3 linked regions of the Homo sapiens genome follow. The protein of the gene in region 1 interacts with the protein of each later gene in a biochemical or structural test. Each region holds a gene or a part of one and is shown in the gene's direction. Other genes may lie near its edges.

Evidence for each region.
Region 2: the proteins of CHAF1A (region 1) and ANP32A form a complex in vitro, tested with the Homo sapiens proteins (one study listed by BioGRID).
Region 3: of the proteins of CHAF1A (region 1) and CDC7, one has a biochemical effect on the other in vitro, tested with the Homo sapiens proteins (one study listed by BioGRID).

Annotation. Positions count from the first base shown.
Region 1 is NC_000019.10:4,404,889-4,413,326, forward strand, and holds part of CHAF1A (chromatin assembly factor 1 subunit A), read left to right. Parts: intron 1-1,023; coding exon 1,024-1,074; intron 1,075-4,014; coding exon 4,015-4,871; intron 4,872-5,616; exon of another isoform or gene 5,617-5,635; intron 5,636-8,438. UniProt on the Homo sapiens protein: Acts as a component of the histone chaperone complex chromatin assembly factor 1 (CAF-1), which assembles histone octamers onto DNA during replication and repair.
Region 2 is NC_000015.10:68,810,160-68,817,901, reverse strand, and holds part of ANP32A (acidic leucine-rich nuclear phosphoprotein 32 family member A), read left to right. Parts: intron 1-7,742. UniProt on the Homo sapiens protein: Multifunctional protein that is involved in the regulation of many processes including tumor suppression, apoptosis, cell cycle progression or transcription. Promotes apoptosis by favouring the activation of caspase-9/CASP9 and allowing apoptosome formation.
Region 3 is NC_000001.11:91,510,845-91,518,586, forward strand, and holds part of CDC7 (cell division cycle 7-related protein kinase), read left to right. Parts: intron 1-752; coding exon 753-846; intron 847-936; coding exon 937-1,079; intron 1,080-2,213; coding exon 2,214-2,463; intron 2,464-3,103; coding exon 3,104-3,199; intron 3,200-3,974; coding exon 3,975-4,153; intron 4,154-4,897; coding exon of another isoform or gene 4,898-4,907; exon of another isoform or gene 4,908-4,949; coding exon 4,950-5,032; intron 5,033-7,688; exon of another isoform or gene 7,689-7,742. UniProt on the Homo sapiens protein: Kinase involved in initiation of DNA replication. Phosphorylates critical substrates that regulate the G1/S phase transition and initiation of DNA replication, such as MCM proteins and CLASPIN.

The DNA of each region.
Region 1 (8,438 bases):
CTTCTCTTGACAGCACTTCAGCTCCTGCCTGGCAAGCTCAAAGTGCTTTAAATTGTGGTACCTTCATGAATTCTCTTTAAAAAGAAAAGGATCCCTTTTCTGATTTTACAGATTTGGTGGTGGTATGGGGGCTTGGGTTGGAGGAAGATGTTTGGGGATCATGGGAATGAAATAGGTAATCTGATGTTTTCTCTCCTCCCTACTTTTACTCATTCCACTTTCATTTCATGAAACAGTTCCGGTTACTCTCTTAGTTGGCTTTCTGATTTATTCCAGACCCTAACCAGGTACCATAGGTGCAGCATGGAACAAGTCTTTCTGCTGTCATAGAGTTGGCATTTTGTTTCCAGAGAGACGTAATAAACACGAAAGTTTCAGATTAAATGCCACAAAGAAAATAAAACAAGACATGACAGTGTCTAGGGTAGGATTTCTCAACCTATTAACATTTTGAGGCCAAGCGCCGTGGCCAGCACTTTGGGAGGCTGAGGCGGGTGGATCACGAGGTCAGGAGTTCGAGACCATTCTGGCTAACATGGTGAAACCCCGTCTCTGCTAAAAATACAAAAATTAGCCGAGAGTGGTGGCATGCGCCTGTAGTCCCAGCTACTTGAGAGAGTGAGGCAGGAGAATCGCTTGAACCCAGGAGGCGGAGGTTGCAGTGAGCTGAGACTGTGCCATTGCACTCCAGCCTGGGCGACAGAGTGAGACTCTGTCTCCAAAAAAAAAAAAAAAATTTTTTTTTTTTGGCCCATATAATTCTTCATTGTGGTGTGCTGTGCATTGCATTGTGGGACATTTAGCAGAATCCCTGGCCTCTACCCACTGGATGTGAATAGCATCCCTTTGAGCCCTCCCTGCATCATGACAACCAAAAACATCTCTAGACTGTGTCAAATGGCCCCCGAGGACAGAGGGGTCAGAATTGCCTCCACCTTGTACATAATTGGCTCTACATATGTATTTGCTAACTTGATTATTTGCAGAATTTAACAGTTTACCCTTTGACACTTTTATTTGCAGCCATGGATTGCAAAGATAGACCAGCTTTTCCAGTTAAGAAGTTAATACAAGGTAATTATTTGGAAATGGGTTAAAGAGTTGTTCGTAGTTTATAGTCTTCCTTGTCTCTTGTTGGAGACCTCAGTGGAAGCCTGGAGCTAGAGGGGAGAGAAACAGTCCTTCTTCAGACCAGGAAGCTGGGAAAATGCTTTTCACACAGTAATGTCTCGTGGGGTTCCCACAAGTAAACCCCGAGGCCTCCACTTATGCACGATTGGTGTTTTGTAACTTGCAGCTGGGAGCTCTCCTGTATGTTGTAGGGAGCGTAGCAGCATCCCTGGCCTCTTCCCACCGGATGCCAGTAAGTGCATCCTCCAAGTCGTAACAACCAAAAATATCTCTATACGTGGCTGATGTCCCCTGGGAGGTAGAACTGCCCCCTCAGAGAACCACTGTTGTCCTGGAAGATAAATGCTCCCAAATCCTTCTGCATAAAACGGGGAGTGTGTTCACCCTTGGGCCAGATGAGCGGTTGGATTGTAATTTTTTTTTTTTTTTTTTTGAGACGGAGTCTCATTCTGTTGCCCAGGCTGGAGTGCAGTGGTGCGATCTCTGCTCACTGCAACCTCCGCCTCCTGGGTTCAAGCAATTCTCCTCCTTCAGCCTCCCAAGTAGCTGGGATTACAGGCGCGTGCCACCACACCCAGCTAATTTTTCTATTTTTAGTAGAGATGGGGTTTTACCATGTTGGCCGGGATGGTCTCGATCTCCTGACCTTGTGATCCCCCTGCCTCAGCCTTTCAAAGTGCTGGGATTACAGGTGTGAGCCACCGCACCCGGCCCAGATTGTATTTTTAGAAACTACAGTTTTGGGTTTTTCAAACTTGGGCTGGGTGCAGTGTTGCATACCTGTAAAACCAGCTATTTGAGAGGCTGGGGTGGGAGGAGTGCTTGAGTCCAGGAGTTCAAGGCTGCGGTGAATTATAATGACACCACTGCTCTTCAGCCTGGATGACAGAGGAAGACTCTGTCTCTTGAAAAAAAGGGGGACGCCAGATGCTAGGCTCACACCTGTAATCCTAGCACTTTGGGAAGCTAAGGTGGGCGGATTGTCTGAGCTCAGGAGTTTGAAACCAGCCTGGCCAACATGGTGAAACCCCGTCTCTACTAAAATACAAAATAGCTGGGCATGGTAGGGGGCACCTGTAGTCCCAGCTACTCAGGAGGCCGAGGCAAGAGAATTGTTTGAACCCGGAAGGAAGAGGTTGCAGTGAGCCAAGGGTGCGCCACTGCACTCCAGCCTGGTGACAGAGCAAGACTCTGTCTCAAAACAAACAACTCCCCCCACACCCCCCCCAAAAAAAAACAGGTTTTTATTTGGTCTATTACATGATGAAATAGTTAATAAAAGATGCAATGGCATTGAAGTAAGTGAACATAGGTTCTTTGGGAAATTCACTCTCCAAAGTGTTTCTGTGTTCCTCCTAACCAGCCCGAAGCCTGGCAGACTCTGGGAGAACAGTTTGATTGATGAGAAAAGCCTAACAGAGCCTAGGGTGCTGAGGCCAGGAGAAAAAAAAAAAACCCTGTCCACAAATGTGTCTATATTTTCTACTTGAGAACCAGATGCAGTTATTATCAAATGAGATTTTCACCCATTAAAAATAAATTTGGAATATGAACTGCATCTGAAATAAACAAATGTCTCTTGAAATTCTGGCGATGGCTCTGCTAAAAGGCTTGTCAGGATTTTGTTTTTTAAGTTAGGATGTTGAAGCGGGGCATGGTGACTCACATCTGTAGTCCCAGCACCTTGGGAGGTGGAGGCGGGCAGATCACCTGAGGTCAGGAGTTTGAGACCAGCCTGGCCAACATGGCGAAACCCTGTCTCTACTAAAAATACAAAAATTAGCTGGGTGTAGTAGTGCATGCCTGTAATCCCAGCTACTTGAGAAGCTGAGGCAGGAGAATAGCTTGAACCCAGGAGGTGGAGGTTGCAGTGAGCTGAGGTGGCGCCATTGCACTCCAACATGGGTGACGAGCAAGACTGTCTCCAAAAGAAAAAAAAATAAGTAAAATTAGGATGTTAGAAAAGGATAGAATGAAAAGATAGCACCCCCCACCCCCTCTTTTTTTTTGAGACGAGGTCCCTTTTGCCCAGGCTGCAGAGTAGTTGCACCACCACAGCTCACTGCAGCCTCTACCTCCTGGGCTCAAGCGATCCTCCTGCCTCAGCCTCCCGAAGTGCTGGGATTATAGATGTAAGTCAGTGTACCTGGCTTCAGATAGCCCCTGCCCCGTCTTTTTTTTTTTTTTTTCTTTTGAGAGTTTCGCTCAGGTCGCCCAGGCTGGAGTGCAGTGGCGTGATCTCAGCTCACTGCAGGCTCCGCCCCCCGGGTTCACACCATTCTCCTGCCTCAGTCTCCCGAGTAGCTGGGAATGCAGGCGCCCGCCACCTCACCCGGCTAATTTTTTGTACTTTTAGTAGAGACGGGGTTTCACCGTGTTAGCCAGGATGGTCTCGATCTCCTGACCTTGTGATCCGCCTGCCTTGGCCTCCCGCACCCGGCCTTTTTTTTTTTTTTTTTTTTTTTTTTTTTTGAGAGGGAGTCTGTCTCTGTCGCCCAGGCTACAGTGCAGTGTTGGGATCTCAGCTCACTTCAACCTCTGCCTCCCAGGTTCAAGCGATTCTCCTACCTCAGCCTCCTCAGTAACTGGTATTACAGGCGTGTGCCACCATGGCCTGGCTAATTTTTGTAGTTTTAGAAAAGACGGGGTTTCACCATTTTGGTCTGGCTGGTCTCAAACTCCTGACCTTGTGATCTGCTTGCCTCGGCCTCCCCAAAGTGCTGGGATTACAGGCATGAGCCACCACACCCGGCCCAGATAGTCCCTTTTTAAACTTTAAAATTATCTCCCACCCCCATGTCCCAACAAATCAGTAATTTTCAAGCTCATGAGTGGTTGTAACTTTAAACGTTCACTAGAGATGGCTTTCTGTCTTTGTTTCAGCCCGTCTGCCGTTTAAGCGCCTGAATCTTGTCCCAAAGGGGAAAGCCGATGACATGTCAGACGATCAGGGTACTTCTGTGCAAAGTAAAAGCCCCGATTTAGAGGCCTCTTTGGACACCTTGGAAAACAACTGTCATGTGGGTTCTGACATAGACTTTAGACCGAAACTTGTCAACGGGAAGGGTCCCTTAGATAACTTTTTAAGAAATAGAATCGAAACCAGTATTGGCCAGAGCACAGTCATCATTGATTTGACAGAGGACTCGAATGAGCAGCCAGACAGTCTTGTGGACCACAATAAACTAAATTCTGAAGCCTCTCCCTCCAGGGAGGCAATAAATGGCCAGCGAGAAGACACTGGGGATCAGCAGGGGTTGTTGAAGGCCATTCAGAACGACAAGTTGGCATTTCCTGGAGAGACCCTTTCAGACATTCCTTGCAAAACAGAGGAGGAGGGTGTTGGCTGTGGAGGTGCAGGGAGGAGAGGCGACTCCCAGGAATGTTCGCCACGGAGCTGCCCGGAGCTGACGAGTGGCCCGAGAATGTGCCCCAGAAAGGAGCAGGACAGTTGGAGTGAAGCTGGGGGCATCCTGTTCAAAGGGAAGGTGCCTATGGTGGTCTTGCAGGACATCTTGGCTGTGAGACCACCGCAAATCAAGTCCCTTCCAGCCACACCCCAAGGCAAGAACATGACCCCTGAGAGTGAGGTGCTGGAATCTTTCCCCGAAGAAGACTCTGTACTCAGCCATTCGTCCCTGAGCTCTCCCTCTTCCACCAGCTCGCCCGAGGGGCCGCCTGCTCCCCCAAAGCAGCACAGCAGTACCAGTCCCTTCCCCACCTCCACGCCCCTCCGCAGAGTGAGTATCTCCCATGGAGTCCCTGCACATCAGTGCTCACGGATCTCAGAGCGCTGTCAGTCTCCACTGGGTCACCCAGGTGTTTTGTGGCAGAGTGAGCGGGGCCACGGGCTGGGTCCTGGGACTCGACGTGGAGTTCTTCCTGGTATCAAAACTCACAGTGTTCAGTTCTGCATTCGTTGTGATGCCCCTGGGACTTAATTCATCAACAGTGTACCTGGTGTACTGTGTGAATAACACCCTGCTGTTTTGCCTTCGTTGTTCACATCTAATCAGTGATAGCTTAGCCGTTTTAGGGAATTAGGATCTGAGCTGGTGCTGTAACCCCTCACTTCAGATTCGAGGTCCAGCTTTCTCTGTGCCCTTCCTGTCTAAGCATAGAAATGTAGGGACGGGGCTGCAAAGACACTGAGCACTGAAGTGGCAGTGAGACGGCAGGAAGCATGACTTGGGGAATTCTGTAGGGTCAGCACAGCCAGCCATCTTAAAAACCTTACCTGGGGCCAGGCACAGTGGCTCATGCCTGTCATCCCAGCACTTTGAGAGGCCGAGGTGGGAGGATCGCTTGAAGATCACTTCAAAACCAACCTGGGCAACATAGACACCATCTCTATGAAAAAAAATTACTTTTTTTTTTTTTTTTGACAGAGTCACTCTATCACCCAGGCTGGAGTTCAGTGGCGTGATCTCGGCTCACTGCAACCTCCACCTCCCAGGTTCAAGCGATTCTCCTGCCTCAGCATCCCTGATAGCTGGGATTACAGGTGCGCACCACCACACTTGGCTAATTTTTATATTTTTAGTAGAGACAGGGTTTCACTATCTTGGCCAGGCTGGTCTTGAATTTCTGACCTCAAGTAATCTGCCCGTCTTGGCCTCCCAAAGTGCTGGAATTATAGGCATGAGCCACTGCACCCAGCCCTGCAAAAAAATTTTTAAAAGTTATCCAGGCATGGTGGCACATGCCTGTAGTCCCAGCCACCTGGGAAACTGAGGCAGGAGGATCACTTGAGCTGAGGAGTTGGAGGCCGCAGCGAGCTATGATCACACTGCCGCGCTCCAGCCTGGGTGACAGAGCGAGACCCCATCTGGAACCATTTTTAAGGACCCCATAAGGGGGACTTTTGCATGGTCTGTCTCTGTTATTGATTTTTTATTAGCACAATGGTGTCCTTAAGGTCTTAGGGACCAAACTGATAAAATCAGTCACGAGTCCCACGGTGTTTAGTGGTGTCTTTTGATTTTATAATTTTTTACTTTTTATCTTAAGTATGTAGAACCAGAAGAGACAGTGCCTTTTTATGTTTTTGGTTTTGTAGCACTTTTGTTTGTTCATGTTGGGTCTTTATATGAGAGTAGTAGATCCTGAGATGGGTCATTTAATCTGTACCTGTAAGCAGGTACAGTAGACCACCTGGACCATAAACCACCAACCTTGTTCGCTTTCGGGATTTTGAGCTCTAAGGAACCATTTATTTATTTATTTTTGAGACAGAGTCTTGCTCTGTCACCCAGGCTGGAGTACAATGGCGCCATCTCAGCTCACTGCAACCTCCGCCTCTTGGGTTCAAGCAATTCTCCTGCCTCACCCTCTCAAGTAGCTGGGATTAGAGGCACCCGCCACCATGCCCAGCTAATTTTTGTATTTTTAGTAGAGACGGGGTTTTGCCATGATGGCCAGACTGATTTCAAACTCCTGACCTCAGGTAATCCACCCGCCTTGGCCTCCCAAGTTTCTGGGATTATAGGCGTGAGCCACTGTGCTTGGCCAAGAGCATTTATTTTTCTGAATGACTTCATTTCTTGTCTTTCACCTGAGAAGATGAAAAAGGAAAAAATGGCTTCCTCTTTAGGTTTATGAAATGTTGTAAAAATGGTGCAAATCTTTTTTTTTTTTTTTTTTTTTGAGACATGGTCTCACCCTGTCGCCCAGGCTGGAGGGCAATGGCATGGTCTCAGCCTACTGCAGCCTCCACCTTCTAGGTTCAAGCGATTTTCCTGCGTCAGCCTCTTGAGTAGCTGGGATTACAGGTGCCCACCACCACGCCTGGCTAATTTTTGTATCTTTTCAGTAGAGACGGGTTTCACCATGTTGGCCAGGCTGGCCTCAAACTTCTGACCTCAGGTGATCCGCTTGCCTCGGCCTCCCAAAGTGCTGGGATTACAGGCATGAGCCACCGCCCCAGTCTTCTACTTTGTTTTATATGTGCTGGTTTGTTATATAGGTAAACTCTTGTCGTGGGGGTTTGTTGTACAGATTATTTTATCACTCAGGTACTAAGCCTAGTACCCTCTTCTAAGTTACTAAATGTGCCAGACTGGCATGTACACATTTCAGCTTCTACCTAATCCACCACTCAATCTCCCAAAATCAGAGTTGAAGTCTCTCCCCATTGGGCATCCTGTAGTGTACATTCGATCACTTGAATTTCTTCCAGGCTGCTGCCGCTTTGCAAAATTTCGTCCTGTGATGTGAGCCATTTAGCAAGAACGGGACACATGGCTGGGCGCGGTGGCTCACACCTGCAATCCCAGCACTTTGGGACGCCGAGGCGGGTGGATCACCTAAGGTCGAGAGTTCAAGACCAGGCTGACCATTATGGAGAAACCCCGTCTCTACTAAAAATACAGAAAATTAGCTGGGTATGGTGACGCTTGCCTGTAATCCCAGCTACGCCGGAGGCTGAGGCGGGAGAACCGCTTGAACCCAGGAGGCAGAGGTTGCGGTGGCCTGAGATCGTGCCATTGCACTCCAGCCTGGGTAACAAGAACAAAACTCCGTCTCAAGAAAAAAAAAAAGGACAGGACACAAGCACATGTTTCCATTAAGTTTGTTTCCATGTCCACAGCTTAGTCTGCAAACTGGGAAGTCCCCTCGTTGGGCATCATGGTGGCACAATCCTGCCCGCTTTCTAAAACAACTGAGCACATGAACCCAGTGTGCAACATTTAGGAAACCCTGCATTTAGGACGCTAGATCTTGTTCTGAACACAGACTCGAGGTTTTGGGATGCACTTGAAGGCAATATTATCCCAACTTTTCAGATAATTTACAAGTGGTAAAGGCTTCAGGCTGGCCCAGAGCCTATGGCAGAAAGCGGCCACAACCACCCGCAGAGGGCCTGTCAGTCACCGAAGCTATGAGGGAAGCGATTATCGGGAGGCCTCCTCATGCCCTGATGGCAGGGATCCCTGAGATCCCAGCTGAGAGAGACTCCATCCCCAACCCCTACTTTATCTCCGAACCTTTAAGGAGTCCTGCATTTCTGGTTTGGTTGGTTTGCTTGCTTCATAGTTGGTACCTAACTCTTTTTTATTTTTTATTTTTTTTGAGGCGGAATCTCACTCTTTTGCCCAGGTTGGAGTGCAATGGCGTGATCTTGGCTCCTGCAACCGCTGCCTCCTGGGTTCAAGCAATTCTCCTGTCTCAACCTCCCAAGTAGCTGGGATTACAGGCACGCGCCACCAGGCCCAGCTAATTTTTGTATTTTTAGTGGAGATGGGGTTTCACCGTGTTGGACAGGCTGGTCTCGAACTCCTGACCTCGTGATCCGCCCGCCTCGGCCT
Region 2 (7,742 bases), on another chromosome or scaffold:
TTGTCGCTGTGGGGGGCGGGGGGAGCGGAGTCTTGCGCCATCACCCCGACGGCCTCCCGCGCGGAGGAGGCAGGGGGAGCCGGCTTTGGGGACCCCCAGTTGTGCTATGAGCCCCGATGGGGGTTTCCGCCCCGCGCCAACGGCCTGAGGCTGTGCTGGAGAGTCACGGCGGCCGCGGCGCCGGGAGGACGACGATCCTCTGTGCAAATGCCCCCCCCCACGCGCTCCCTGCCTCCCCCGCCTCCTCTCCGGGGTTTCGCCGTTCCTCCTGCAGGCGCTCAGACGTAGTTAAATGTGGCCTTAAGGACTAACCGATCGCTCTGGTGTTTGCTCTTTCGGCGGAAGTGATAGAGTAAGGGGAACATTAAACATGAGGTTCTTTTGGCGGGGGTGAGGGGTGTCGCGCACGCGACTCTAGTGGCCCTGACTGAAGCCAAGGACAGCAGCCTGTTCCCCGGGAGGGAAGAGTTGTCGATCCGTTGGGGAAACGCCCTCCCGGGCTGGGCTCTCCGGGAAGGTAGGTCGAGCTCCGTGTTTCAGGTGGATGTTGCAGCGCCCTGCAGGCTAGGGGAACCCTCCTCCTCGGTCTAAACCTGCTCCTTCCCCCTTTTATTTTTGCCTGGGAGAAGGCAGCTACAATAGTAATGAGATCCTAAAGCGAAAGAGAGGGATGAAGGTTTGCTTTTGAAAAAAGTAAACCGCCTTTCTCCGGATGTTGACTTAGGAGCCAGGCAATTCGTCGCGTCGGGTCCTCCGATGCTGGCATCTCTGAGAATTTTAAAAAGCCGATATAGGTGCTGGTTAAGCACCTCACGAGCTGAACTCTGGTATCTGTGCAGAAACTAACTTTCATGGCAGTGTCCAGCAGAGGCTGCCTTGGAAGCCAGCTTTTACTTTGACCTTTGGAATACATCGCATGATGTTTTCCAGGCTGACTTACTGCCTAATTGGGTTCAAGTAGCATGATATTAACTACAGTTTATGCAAGCCAACCAGGAACTCGCAGGCAGAAAATTGAGCCTGAGTTCCCCTGTGGTCATAGTCAGTTGAGTTCTGCTGCTGATAGTAGTTTCGAGTCTGAGGGGCTCCATGATGAAGATGGGCTTAGGAATTACACAGACCTGGGTTTGAATTCCTCCTGCCACAAGGAGGTAGGATACGTTTACCTGCCCTTGTGACCTTGGGCTGGTGAGCTTAACCTACCTTTTTGAAGCTTTGTTTCTTCACCTGTAAAACGGAATAATCCTATTTAATCAGTAAATGATGACAAAATTGGTTTGATATGGCCCTCAGTATATGCTGTCTATATGACAGTTTTAGTCTCGGAGACATATCAGGGTGCTTCCAGGCATTACTTTGAGCTCCTCCATGGTTTAGGATAATAACAATATTAGCTAGTGCTTACATAGCAACCACGCTGTGTCTGGCACATTTCTTAAGTGGATTACATGTATCAACTAATTTAGTCCCCACAACAGCACTATGAGGTAGGTATTATTATTATCATCGTCATTGTGCATATGGAAATTGAGGCATACAGGGGTTATCATGTGACCAGTGAGTGGCAGAACCAGGATTCAAACTCAGCCAGTCTGCATACTCAACCTCTACACTCTACTGCCTCCTTTGAAACACCCTTTTTTTCTTAAGATACTGTAAGGAAGAGCTTTTTCTTCTCCAGCTTTGGAGTGGTGCCACCGTAGAAAGAGAATGAGTTTTCTATTATTGAAGACGCTGAAATGAAGAGTGGATAGCATCCTGGTTGGAGATATTAGAGGGCCAGGAGGTTCAGGACCAGGGGCTGTGGATTATCATTTTATGAAGCCTTGCACTGAGTTTGCTTTAGCACATCACAGTGGGTTAGGTTGAAGTGGATCTGGCCTTCAAGGTGCTGGGGGACACATTTTGAGTAAGGAGAAGACAAGCAGGAGCTGCTCAGGCAGTCTGCATCTGCAGCCAAAAAAACTCAACATAACTGGCATGTCTTTAGTATCTGGGACATAGTATGCTCATAGCACCTCATGGATCATCTCACTTAATCATCCCAGCAACTCTTTAAGGGTAGGCCAAGCAGTGCAATGCCACCCCTGTTGTGAGGATGAATCATCTGATTTTTGGAGAGGTTGAGCAACTGGTAGGTGGCACAGCCGGGTTCTCGCACTGCAAAACCACAGGCCCCTTTGGTGGACAGAGATTCCGAGGATTGGATAGTCCATTGGGTCCATGGCCCATTACCAGAATCACGTGAGAGGCATGTAAAATGCAGATTCCTGGGCTCCACCCCAATCACAGGAGTACCACAGCAATCACCAAACTATAACTGAGCTCCCAATTTTTGTACAGTCATGAGCTAAGAATTATTTGTACATATAAACGTTGCAGTCAATTTGATGGTATGGAACACTCTTTGAATCCCAATGACTTGAAATGTTATTCTCCCAAAAAATAAGAAATCCACTTGTCTCGTTAACAGATCTCGTTACAAAAAAAAAATTGTACTCAATATATTCTGAACTTTATCAATAAAAGAATTGTGGAAATGTGTTAGATTTTTCTCTTGTTATAAAAGTCCCTATGTAGTGTTCTTAATTTTGGCTCTTGATAAAGTTTACTATCTGCCCCCTTTGCAGAAGAGGTTTGCTGAAAAGGTGGTTCAGTAGATTGGAGGGTGGGCCCCAGGGATCTAGTGTTTTGCTTTGTTTAAGCAAATGGCAAGCCATATATTTGGGTGGTACTCTCAGGGTCTTTTTAAGTCCTTTTATGTGTTCTGTGCCCTGTAAGTAATTGGTGCCTAGTGGAAATCAGCCTCAACCCAGGAACCTCCATAGGAAGAGAAATTATCCTTGTTACTGGTTTAGTATGAAGCACTTCTCGTCTAGAGTTCTGTATAGCCAGCTGAAATTCTTCGTTGTGTACTCAGAACATGTCAAAGCCTTCTGTGTATCTTGTAGTTGAATGGTCACTCTTAGGTTCTAGATGTCATCTCAGAGATAGAAAGAGCTTTGGGTTGCAACGGTTAGAGCTTTGAGGCTTGAACCAAAGGCGGGGCAGCTGTGCACCCAGTGGCTCACATCAGCCTTTCAGAGCCCAGATCTTTGAAAATGACAGATAATCCTGGAATCTCTAGTTTTTGGCCTGCTGCTTTTCTACCATGCGTGTTTCCTGGGGAATGAACCAGCAGCATAGTGGCTTTGAGTTTCAGAAGTTTTTCCCTCTAGCGTCTTGTGCCTGAGCTAATGAACGGAAGGAATGGTTATAAAATTGGCCAGGTCAAGGGGAGGAGGAGATAAATTCAAGGGGACAAATCCTAGTCCCCATAACAGCAGCCTGTGTTATGACAGCACACCACAGCCCCAATTCCCTCTTTCCTGCTGCTGCTGCACCACCAGCCTCTCAAGGTGGCTTACTCTAGACTTACACAGTTGGCCATCTTTCTTTTTTTTTTTCTTTCCCCATAGCAGTATGAGACTTGTTTCCTTTTTTATTTATTTATTTTATAATTTTTGTAGAGACGGGGTTTTGCCGTGTTGCCCAGGCTGGTCTCAAACTCCTGGACTCAAGTGATCTGCCCACCTTGGCATCCCAAAGCGCTGGGATTACAGGTGTGAGCCAGCGTGCCTGGCCCCCTTCTTCAATACCATTGGAAAGACATCTGCTTGAGCTTTCAGAGCTGTCCATCCCAGAGCTTGGGTCCAAATTAATTACATCACATTGAAATAAAAAACTTCCTGGAGGCTGGGTGCAGTGGCTCACGCCTGTAATCCCAGCACTTTGGGAGGCCGAGGCGGGTGGATCACGAGGTCAGGAGATCAAGACCATCCTGGCTAACACGGTGAAACCCCGTCTCTAGTAAAAATACAAAAAATTAGCCGGGCATGGTGGCGGGTGCCTGTGGTCCCAGCTATTCGGGAGGCTGAGGCAGGAGAATGCCGTGAACCCGGGAGGCAGAACTTGCAGTGAGCAGAGATCGTGCCACTGCACTCCGGCCTGGGGGACAAAGCGAGACTCCGTCTCAAAAAAAAAAAAAAAAAAACTTCCTGGAAATTGTGTAGGATACTCTTTAGACATCTCATGCCTTTGCTATTTTGGTGCAGTCACTTAGGAAAGGAGCCGGGAGCTTGTTGGTGATTGGGCCCTGGCCCAATGAACGTGGCCCAATTGTCTGGCCTGAATTCTAACTTAGTTTAAGAGGAGGCTCATAGCTCTGGTGTCTAGAGAGGCATTCCTTTAGAAATGTTTGCCACCAGCATCCCTCCTCTTTGTTTTGGCAGTCCATCCCTTACTCTAGCTAGTTCTCTGGTCTCCTAGGAACTACCCTCTCCCAGTCCCCCAGCACCACTGCCTTCAAGTAGAGAAACATGGACCTGACTCTGAATCTTCTATAGCTTTGAAATAGAATTATACAACAAATGATAAATACCCAACAATGATGTTTTCATTAAAGAGATGGAGTCTGGCAGGGACAGAGATTTGTGAAGGCATCTGTTATTCAGAACTTCTCATTTAATAAAATTTGTTGAAACTAGATGAGCAAAGCACCATGGCCCTGAGCCACCTTCTCAGACATGGAAGCAGCCTCCTTGTCTAGAACTAGTTGTCCTGATGATATACAGACTCTAAGGAAGATAAAAGTCCCTTTATTCTACCACACCAAGCCCTGTCCTGGGCCTGCTGGGCCACACCCTGCAACCCAGTGCTTTCCCTCAGATTTATTTTGTTTTAGCTCCACAGCTGCCCCCTGAATTCATTCAGCTACTGTTTCCTTTACCAAAACTTGCTCCAGGCAGCAGATCTAAAAGATCAGCTTACTTACTACTCCACTGTTATTTACTCTAATGTGGATTAAAGTCAGCACTGTTTTTCCCAGAGGTATTTACATTTGGAGATTCTGGTTTGGTGAGGAAATTACCAGAGAACTATTAAAGACTTGGATGCTCTTCTCGGCTTTGCTATTAAGTAAGTTGGACAAGTTGTTTGGCTTCTTTGAGCCTCTGTTTTCTCCATTCTGAAATTCTAAAATGGGAGTGTTGAATTAGATCAGTGGCTTTCGAACTTTCTGCTCCTAGTAGTGAGAAATACATTTTACTCCACTCCCTGGTATGTACACGCATTCCTGTGTTTTGTGAAAAACCGACACCATGCTCCTCCCTCACTACATGTAAAACACTTTTATTCATTAAAAAGAAAACTGACTGGCTTGGACCTACAAATTAGTTTCATTATTTGTTAATGTTTGAAAGCCATTAAAAGATGAATATTAAGGTTTCTTTATACTCAATACTTGTAGTTTTGTTTGGGGGAATGAGAGGATGCCCTTGGTACCTTTGTGAGGCCTCTCCACTGAGGGTCAATCATGACTTCTGTTTTAAACCAGCCCATCCCATCTTCTCCAGCTGCTCTCCTTATGTCTTGCTTCTCTCCCCTCCAACCTTCTCAGCATAAGGACTCAATCCTAGGCTCCTACCCCAGACGGGTGCCTTCCAACGTTCCTGGTGCCAGTGGCCCCCCATCAGCCATGTTCCCCCAGCCCCTTCTCCACACTCTTGTCACCCAGGGCCCCATCCTTCAGTGCATTGCACACTTTGCATGCTGGGTCAGGGAAGATTGTGGAGAGAGGACAGTGCACCTGGTTTCCCCCACATAGACTGCGTGGGGGTATGTCCTGCTTCCGCCACTTCCAACTGTGGCACTTGGGCACGCCCCTCTCAGGGCACCTTCCCTTTTTGTCTCCGCAAAATGAGGTTGTAATAGTGCCTGCCGCACTGTCTGGCACACAGTAAGCTCTCAAGAAATGTTAGCTGTTGTTGCCGTTAGAACACCATAGCTAGAATACCATACCTGGCATTCACTTAAAAAAAAAAAAAACAACTTAGGGCCAGGCGCAGTGGCTCACGCCTGTACTTCCAGCACTTTGGGAGGCCAAGACAGGCAGAGCACCTGAGGCCAGGAGTTCAAGAACAGGCTGGCCTTGTCTCTACTAAAAATACAAAAAAAAAAATCAGCCGGGTGTCGTGGCAGGTGCCTGTAATTCCAGCTACTCTGGAGGCTGAGGCAGGAGAATCGCTTGAACCTGGGAGACGGAGGTTGCAGTGTGAGCCGATATCGTGCCACTGCATTCCAGCCTGGGCAACGAGCGAAACTCGGTCTCAAAAAAACCCAACTTACATTATCCGCAGACACATTACATACAAAAGTAACCATTTTCTTTCAATGGGAAAGGAGGTTTAGAAGCTAGAGATTCAAAGTTACCAGGAGTTACTTTTTCCCACTAGGAATTCACTACAGTCCTGACATTGGACTCTAGGTAGTTTCTACTGAGGGTAAGTGACTCGTCCCTCTTCTGGGCAACTCTTTTTCTTACTGCCCTCAGCAGCTATTTCAGGCCTCCACCCCTTCCCTCCCGGCCAGGACGTCCTCTTCACAGAAAATGGAAACCTCCTGGTTTCTTAAGTAGTTGTGAGGCTGAACCTGCCTTAATCCCTCCCAGTTCAGTGGTCTTCTTGTCTTGTCCATCCCTCCCTCAGTTCCCTTGTTCCTCCTGGGCACCTAGCCACTCCTGTCCTTTGGATTCTTCTCCAGCTGGGGATGCTTCTCCCATCTTAAAGCAAAGACTCTAATTGATCCCGTGTTGCGCTGTAGTTACTGCCCATCCCACTCTTCTCCCTACTCCCTAAACTTTCTGAATTGTCTATCTTCTCCATCCTGTCACCTCTCTTACTCCACCACGTGAAGTCTGGTTTGCTTCCTAAATAGTGCCAAGAATCCCAACAGCCTTCATTTCTTATCTTGCATGATGTCTCAGTGGCGGGATTCAGCATTCTTTTTTTTTTTTTTTTTTCCCAGACAGAGTCTCACTCTGTGGCCCATGTTGGAGTGCGCAGTGGCTTGATCTCAGCTCACTGCAACCTCGACCTCCTGGGTTCAAGCGATTCTCGTGCCTCAGCCTCCCGAGTAGCTGGGATTACAGGTGTCCACCACCACGCCCGGATAACTTTTTTATTTTTAGTAGAGAAGGGGTTTCACCATGTTGGCTAGGCTGATCTCGAACTCCTGACCTCAAGTGATCTGCCTGCCTCGGCCTCCCAAAGTGCTGGGATTACAGGCGTGAGCCACTGCGCCCGGCTGGGATTCAGCATTCTTGACTTTATGATAGATGCTCTCCCTTTCTCTGGTATATCTTCTACGGCTCTAGTCACTGCTCAGTTTCTGGTGTCCTGTTGCTCTCCTGTTTAGCCATGAAGTATTGACTTAGTCAAACTTGGGCGCTGGGCATTCTTATCCTGTATTCTCTCCAGTTGGAAATTTGTCCTTCCTCACTGACAGCTGCAGGTACTGCGTGCTGCTCTCTGAGGTTTGAAGTTTACTGCTTGAGTAAGCTTGAGACCCACCTGATGTCTCCACCTGGGTGCTCCAAAAGTGCCCTACTCTTAAGTCCAAAGGGAACCCATGTCCTCTGTCCCTTGCCCACCACTGCCCACACACACACACTCATGATCCTCTTTCCATCCATCATCATCACAAGTCTTGTCTGTTTAAAACATGCTCTGTTGCTTGCCACTGATCTCCCTGTATCATAGTCTAGTCTTCTTGAAGCCATGCTGTGACCTTCAACTAGAATGATCTTATCAAAACACACATGTAATGTCACCCCATACTTAAAATTCACCATTGTTCCTAGGATAAAGTCCCAAATCTTTAATAAGACCAACAAGGTGCTGCATGGTCTGGCCACTTCCCGTCAT
Region 3 (7,742 bases), on another chromosome or scaffold:
GTTATTCTCTTTGACTTCCATGCTAATAACTCTTCCTTCAAAATTCCTTTCTTATTTGGCTCTCTAACTTGGCTTCTTCCAAGCTCAGTTTTCTTTTCTCGCTATTAATTTTCATGTCTGTAGGTATCACTTCTCTGCAGGTACTCTCACTGACTTCTCACTTGTCTTCTCACTTAAGGCTTAGTCCCTTGTCTAGATAACTCTATCAAAATGATGAGGTCTGGTTTTAGATGCTTCTTTTACTGGCTTCTCTACTCATTTTTTGGTATCTCTATTGTTTTCTTACTCAGGCTCAAAATCATAGAAATCACCTTTGTCCTATTTTCCTCTTTTATGAAGCAGTGTAACATAGTGATTAAGAACATATATCTGGAGCAAAATGCCTGGGTTCAAATCCTGGCTCATTGATCTATTAGTTTAGTGACCTTGATTTATTTATTACTGTTACCATCTTATCTGCTAAGTCTTATTAATCTTTTCCCTTTTTTCTCATTCTGCTGCTTCCCCAGTCACAACTATAATTACCTCGTTTGAATTATTATAGTAACTTCAAAACTGGTGCCATTTTTGTTTTAAAAGAAAACTTTAACACGAGAACACAAGTCACTTGTGTTTATATTATGTGATGATGATTTAAGTCAGTTTTCTAGCAATATGTATGCATTGCTAAAATTGCGGTTTTTAAAATTAGGCATAAAGTTTCAGTCCCTCTGACCTTTCTTCTAAAAGTTCCTTGTGCATTTTTCCACTAGGGGGCAAGATAATGTCATGGGAGTTAAATACTGCTTTAGGAAGAATGATCATGTAGTTATTGCTATGCCATATCTGGAGCATGAGTCGTTTTTGGTAGGTTTTAATATTTCTTGAATTTTTATTAGCTAAATATTTAATTGCAAACAATATTTGTAACTCATTTCATTTGTAACTTTGTTTTAGGACATTCTGAATTCTCTTTCCTTTCAAGAAGTACGGGAATATATGCTTAATCTGTTCAAAGCTTTGAAACGCATTCATCAGTTTGGTATTGTTCACCGTGATGTTAAGCCCAGCAATTTTTTATATAATAGGCGCCTGAAAAAGTAAGTATGAAGAGTTACTAGAAAATATTTATCCTATTTCTTTTAAAAAACAATTTTATTGTCTATATTTAAGGTATTGAACATGATGTTATATATAGTACAAAAGTTACTATTGTGAAGCAAATATTTATCTCAGTTACCCATCTTATTTTTGTTTTTACGGCAAGAGCAGCTAAAATTTACTCATTTAGTATGAATCTCATATACAGTACAGTTTTATTACCTGTAATCTTCAGAGTGTGCATTAGGTCTAGATTTATTTATCCTACATATCTGCTACTTTGTATCCTCTGACTTATATCTCTTAGATATAATATAACATACTGCAATAGCCATGCACAGATTATTTCTGTTTCAGTTTCTTTGTGATTGGAAAGGGAAATTTGGTGATGAAGAAGATAAAATTGTATTAGTGGAATAATGTACATTATTAGATGTACTATGGTTCAGTGGAAATAGCATGAACTAACAGACTTAGAGTCTAATAATTTTTGACCTTAGACATGTCTCTTATCTCTGGACTTCATTTTTCTTTTCTAGTAAGTGAGGGGATTGGACCACATGATAGCCAATTTCCTGTTTTAACACAAAAGTTTTATTTTTATGTATACTTTTTAATGCTGATTATAATTATAGAGAAATTATAAGCTAAAAATAACATAAATACCTCTATATAATGGATCATATTAAACATAATAATATTATAACTTCTTTTTTGAGCTTTTATATGCCTGACTTTTTAATTTTCTTTAATTGGATCAGATTTTAAAACCATGATTTTAATTTTTTTAAGCTTTCTTAACTAGAAATTATCTGCTATGATGCCATCTCTGCCACCATCAGAGAACAACGGACTGTGTTTATGTTATGTATTCCTCTTCTGCCTTATTAACACAGACCACTGGAAAAAGAAAATTTGATTGTGGGACAACTCTTAATTTTCAATCCTGGTTAGCTGTTAAATTCTTACTTTGTCTGGAAAACTTATTTTTTTTTCTTTTTTCCAGAATGTTATAAATTCCTAATTGATCCCAAAAAGAATTACAGTTTTTATGAGGATGGTTTGAGAGTATTACAATGTTACTAAGCTTTAATTGCTACAGATAAGTAAAAATGCTTAATTTTGTCTCTTAGGTATGCCTTGGTAGACTTTGGTTTGGCCCAAGGAACCCATGATACGAAAATAGAGCTTCTTAAATTTGTCCAGTCTGAAGCTCAGCAGGAAAGGTGTTCACAAAACAAATCCCACATAATCACAGGAAACAAGATTCCACTGAGTGGCCCAGTACCTAAGGAGCTGGATCAGCAGTCCACCACAAAAGCTTCTGTTAAAAGACCCTACACAAATGCACAAATTCAGATTAAACAAGGAAAAGACGGAAAGGTTCTATCTCTTTTATTTCTTAAGTACCGACACTGTTTTAGAAATATACTCCTTCAACCAACAGAGGGAGATAGAATACTAGGATAGTACTTATAATTTAAAAAACTTTTTTTTGCATTTGTTATATGTATTCATTTGATTAAATTTTCACTAAGATTTGTACTGAATCATTTTGGTTACTATTTTAAAACTAAAATTTACTTTGTCAGTTTATAACATCTGTCATTAACTATTATGAAATCATATTTTATGACAAAAATGGAAAATATTAAATTTTCCCTGCATGTTAAAAAGTTCAGATTAATTATCCTTTTTAAAAGAAAGCATTAGTTATAGGGGAGGAATTCTGAAGTGTCTATCTCCATTTTAGCTGCACAGCAAAATGTAACATCCATGCAGGTGGTTTTTGAATTTTTTTTTAGTTATATATATTTGTGGACTATGATAACATTGTATGGGTGTTGAGTTCTGTCTAGACTATTTTCTCCTTTCACAGAAGTGGTTTGGTGCCTGAGAATGACTTGGATGCAGCTGTTTTTGTTTCATCTCACTTAACTCTTTCAAAACTATGGCAGAGTACAGCTGGCAGAAAGTGTTACAGATATAATCCTTATTTTCCTTGTTTTTGTTGGTATTGTAGGAGGGATCTGTAGGCCTTTCTGTCCAGCGCTCTGTTTTTGGAGAAAGAAATTTCAATATACACAGCTCCATTTCACATGAGAGCCCTGCAGTGAAAGTAAGTAATGTAGCTTAATAGCATAATGGTCAGTCAGTCATACACTGAAGAGAATTTAGGTAATAACTAGATTAACATTTATTATCAGAAATTTTTTTAAACTAGAGTTTGGCTTTGGCAGAAGGTATTACTGCTTTAAGCATTTAGTCAAAACTTGTTTTCTCCAGTTTTTTTCTGAACTTTTCTGGTGGAATTTTTTCTCATTTTTGGTTAGCTATTACTGTCTTTCTCTAGAGGAACATTTAGAACATTAAGGGCTTTCTGTCATTGCTAGAGTGTGAGCTCCATACAGTTAGCTAACTATTCTGACACATAGTTGATAGTGTAAAGATGTTTGTAAAGTTAACAAAATCATCATCAATGTAGATGATTTCAGATTGACTTATGATATCTTGTGACAGCTAGACAGCATGAGCAACAAATTAAAACTGTGATTTTAGCCAACGTACTTGTGCAGTTTACAGTTCTGAAATGGAGTTAGACACTAGAACATAACTGTTTTATACTTCTGTAATATATCAGGAAAAGTTCTAATAAAGTATAACTCAAATATTGGCCAAGCTAGGACTAATTAGTAAATTTTAATATAAGGTGACTTTACAGAAAAACCCAAGAAGACCTTAAACATTTTAATAGACAACAGTTTATTTACAGTCCAATAGCCATTCAGCAGTTTTTAAAGTTATGCTTCCGCTATTGCTTTTTGCCATACTAGCATTTTAGGACATCATGTTTAATATCATGAAAATAGAAAAATGAGACTTTTCTTTTACAGCTCATGAAGCAGTCAAAGACTGTGGATGTACTGTCTAGAAAGTTAGCAACAAAAAAGAAGGCTATTTCTACAAAAGTTATGAATAGTGCTGTGATGAGGAAAACTGCCAGTTCTTGCCCAGCTAGCCTGACCTGTGACTGCTATGCAACAGATAAAGTTTGTAGTATTTGCCTTTCAAGGTAATGTGTTTTGATGGTGTTATAAAATCACCAGCATGCTGCCATTAGAAATTGCATTGACTTGGGTGGATAATTTTGTGAGTGCAAGGGATCAGTTCAGATCAGTGAACTGCAATGGGCCTTGATGCAGAGCAGTAGTATGTTGAAGAGCAAATGATAACAGTTTTCATATATTATTTATTTAATATGGATATACTCTGGAAAACACATTTGCTCTTATATGCAAATAAGTGGGACGGGGTGGCTTTTAGAAGCTTAGAATCACACATTTTGATTGCTGATGTAGTCTTTTCTGTTTTCTCTTTTTATTCCCGCTTATGTGGAGTAACCAGAACCAAATAGTAGAGCTCCTCTTTTACTCCCACCTCCAACTCTTTGACTCATAAATTTCTTCCTTTCCTTCAAGGCTTGGCTTTCATAAAGCCTTTCTTGATTAACTCAAATATATAAGTGTATCTGTGATCAATTACTCCAAACAAATGAATTTTTATACCTGTGAATTGCTATTGGGTTCTATTTTTTCTATTATGGCTCTTATTATCCACTACTGCTTTTTATTCTTGGAGGTTATTTTAAACCTTTCTGGAGTAAGTCCGGGGAACTAGTAGAGGGGGTAAAAAACAGAAGAAGAAAAATCTAGGATTTTTATCACACTAGATTATCATTTACTTTATAGTAACACTTATTATATAGGTATCAAGGCAAAATTTACTGTGAACTAAATTGATGAATGTTATTTTTTAGACTTACATAGTTCAACTTTAACATAACTAGAGAAATCTTATTTCATCATAAGGCGTCAGCAGGTTGCCCCTAGGGCAGGTACACCAGGATTCAGAGCACCAGAGGTCTTGACAAAGTGCCCCAATCAAACTACAGGTATGTTGTACTGGAAATACAGAACCTAGTTAAAATGGATTGTTCCAGACGTATTTTATTTTATGATCTTTGTCTATTTATAACTAATATTTGAGTTCTTCTGCTTTTAATTATGTAAGCAGTTCTTGCAGTGTGGCATTCCTATTTTTGAGCTAATGCTATTCTTTATGAAAGTTTTTAATCCTAATGTTGCCTCTCTTTTTTTGTTTAAACAGTTTATTCCATAGATTACATTTTGCGTATTTATTTACAAGATGATCTTACCATCTTGTAAATAAATACGCAAAATGTAATCTGTGGAATTTTGCTGACATCACCTTTGTGGGGGAAAAAATTATGTTTAATAGTTTTTGCCAGCCAAAGACTTAAAGCATTTTATTTGCTTGCTTAATACCTCAAAAGTTTCCTGTGATGTAGATATATTTGTGTTTGATTAAAATTACTTTTGTTATTATATAAACAATATAATAGCAGTTAGAAGGTTTTGAAAAAGAAAAATGTCTTCCGTAATCTAAAAACTTACCATGGAGCTGGAATCCAGGAAACATCTTGAATGAATAGATGAATCCTGCTATTCACTTGGATTATGGGCTTTGAAGAAATGTATTCATTCATTGAATGTCTGTTCTTGCTTGCTAATGATAACAAATAAATAAATGAGACCATCTGTTCACACTCTAGTCAGGACACCATCAAATAATTATAAAATAACCTGTTGAGTATGGTAATAAAACTTATTCAGGGTATTTAAGGAGTATCTAACTATCCTAACCCAAAGAGATTATGAAAGGCAATTCATGAAAGAAATGACCTCTTAGAATGTAAATTGGGCTGAGAAGTTAGCATAGAGGCATGAGCCAAGGAACTCAAGAAACAGCATACAGGAAACTAAAAAAGTTTCATTTTGGCCAGACGCGGTGGCTCATGCCTGTAATCCCAGCACTTTCGGAGGCTGAGATGGGCGGATCACCTGAGATCAGGAGTTTGAAACCAGCCTGACCAACATGGTGAAACCCCATCTCTACTAAAAATACAAAAATCAGCTGGGTGTGGTGGTGCGCACCTGTAATCCCAGCTACTCAGGAGGCTGAGGCAAGAGAATCACTTGAACGCAGGAGGCGGAAGTTGCAGTGAGCCAAGATCGCACCATTGCCCTCCAACCTGGGCGACAGCAAGACTTCATCTCAAAAAAAAAAGTCCAATTTTGCTAGAATATTAAGATGCAAGTTGAGGAATGGTGAGAGATAAACCTGGAATGAGGTAGACAAGGTCAGACCACAGTTGTTACAGTTTGGACTATATACTGTAGATATTGGAAAGTTAAGTGAAAAAAGTGACAATGGTATATCCTAGATGGATCATTCTGGCAGGCGTGCAAACAGATTAGCTTTTGGAGAGTGGTGGCATGAATTTGTCCGGGTGAGAGGATGAAAATGTGAATGAGGGTATTGGTAATAGGAATGAAAAGAAAAGTGAAGGGTTAGAAAGGCAGAGCTTGGTGGATAATTGGATGTAGAATTAGGGTGTGGTATGGTGAGGGAAAAAGGCATTCAGGATGTTTACCAGATTCCTAGCTTGGGAGACTTGGATGTGTACCAGTAACCAAGGTGGAGAGTAAAGGAGAAGTAACTGGTTTATAGGGGAAGGTAAGGTTAGTTTGGGGTATAATTGGTTTGAGGTATTTGTGGGACATCCAAATAGAGATTTCCAGCAGAATCAAAGTTAAGTCTGATGCTCAGCGAAGGAGCTGGGCTAGAAATACAGATGAATGTCATCATTATATAAATGACAGTTGAAGCCATGAAGTGGATGGACCAATCAGGGAGAGTATACAGAGGGAGAAGTTAAAACTCTGAGGAATATCCGTCAGCACTTAAGGCTTGGAGAAAACATTGAAGGAGCAGGCAGAGGTACCAAAGGAGCTAAGAAAGGCAAGTAGGGCCGGGCACAGTGGCTCATGCCTATAATACCAGCACTTTGGGAGGCCAAGGCAGGCAGATCACTAGGTCAGGAGTTCGAGATCAGCCTGGCCAATATGGCGAAATCCCGTCTCTACTAAAAAGTACAAAAAATTAGCAGGGCATGGTGGCACACACCTGTAGTTCCAGCTACTGGGGAGGCTGAGGCAGGAGAATTGAACCCGGGAGGCAGAGGTTACAGTGAGCCAAGATCGCACCATTGCACTCCAGCCTGAGCAACAGAGTGAGACTCAGTCTCAAAAAAAAAAAAAAAAAAAAAAAGGTGATACAGTAGCCCAAGGAACAGAGAGCAGATAACCTGGTGATACTAGGAAGTCAACAATTAAGAGAGATGTCAACTTTAAGAAAAAAAAAAAAGAGCTTTTTAACATCAAGTTGAGCTAGTCGTAATCTTTAACTACCAGAATTCAGAAGATTAAAGTTTCTATAGTGGGAATGTAAATTAGTACAACCACTATGGAAAACAATTTGGACGTTCCTCAAAAAACTAAAAATAGAGCTACTACATGATCCAACAATCCCACTGCTGGGTATATACCCAAAAGAAAGGAAATCAATGTACCGAAGAGGTATCTGCACTCCCATGTTTGTTGAAGCACTATTCATAATAGCCAAAATTTGAAAGCGACCTAAGTGTCCGTCAACAGATGAATGGATAAAGAAAATGTGGTACTTACACACAATGGAAGTACTATTCAGCCACGAAAAAGAAGATCTTGTCATTTGCAACA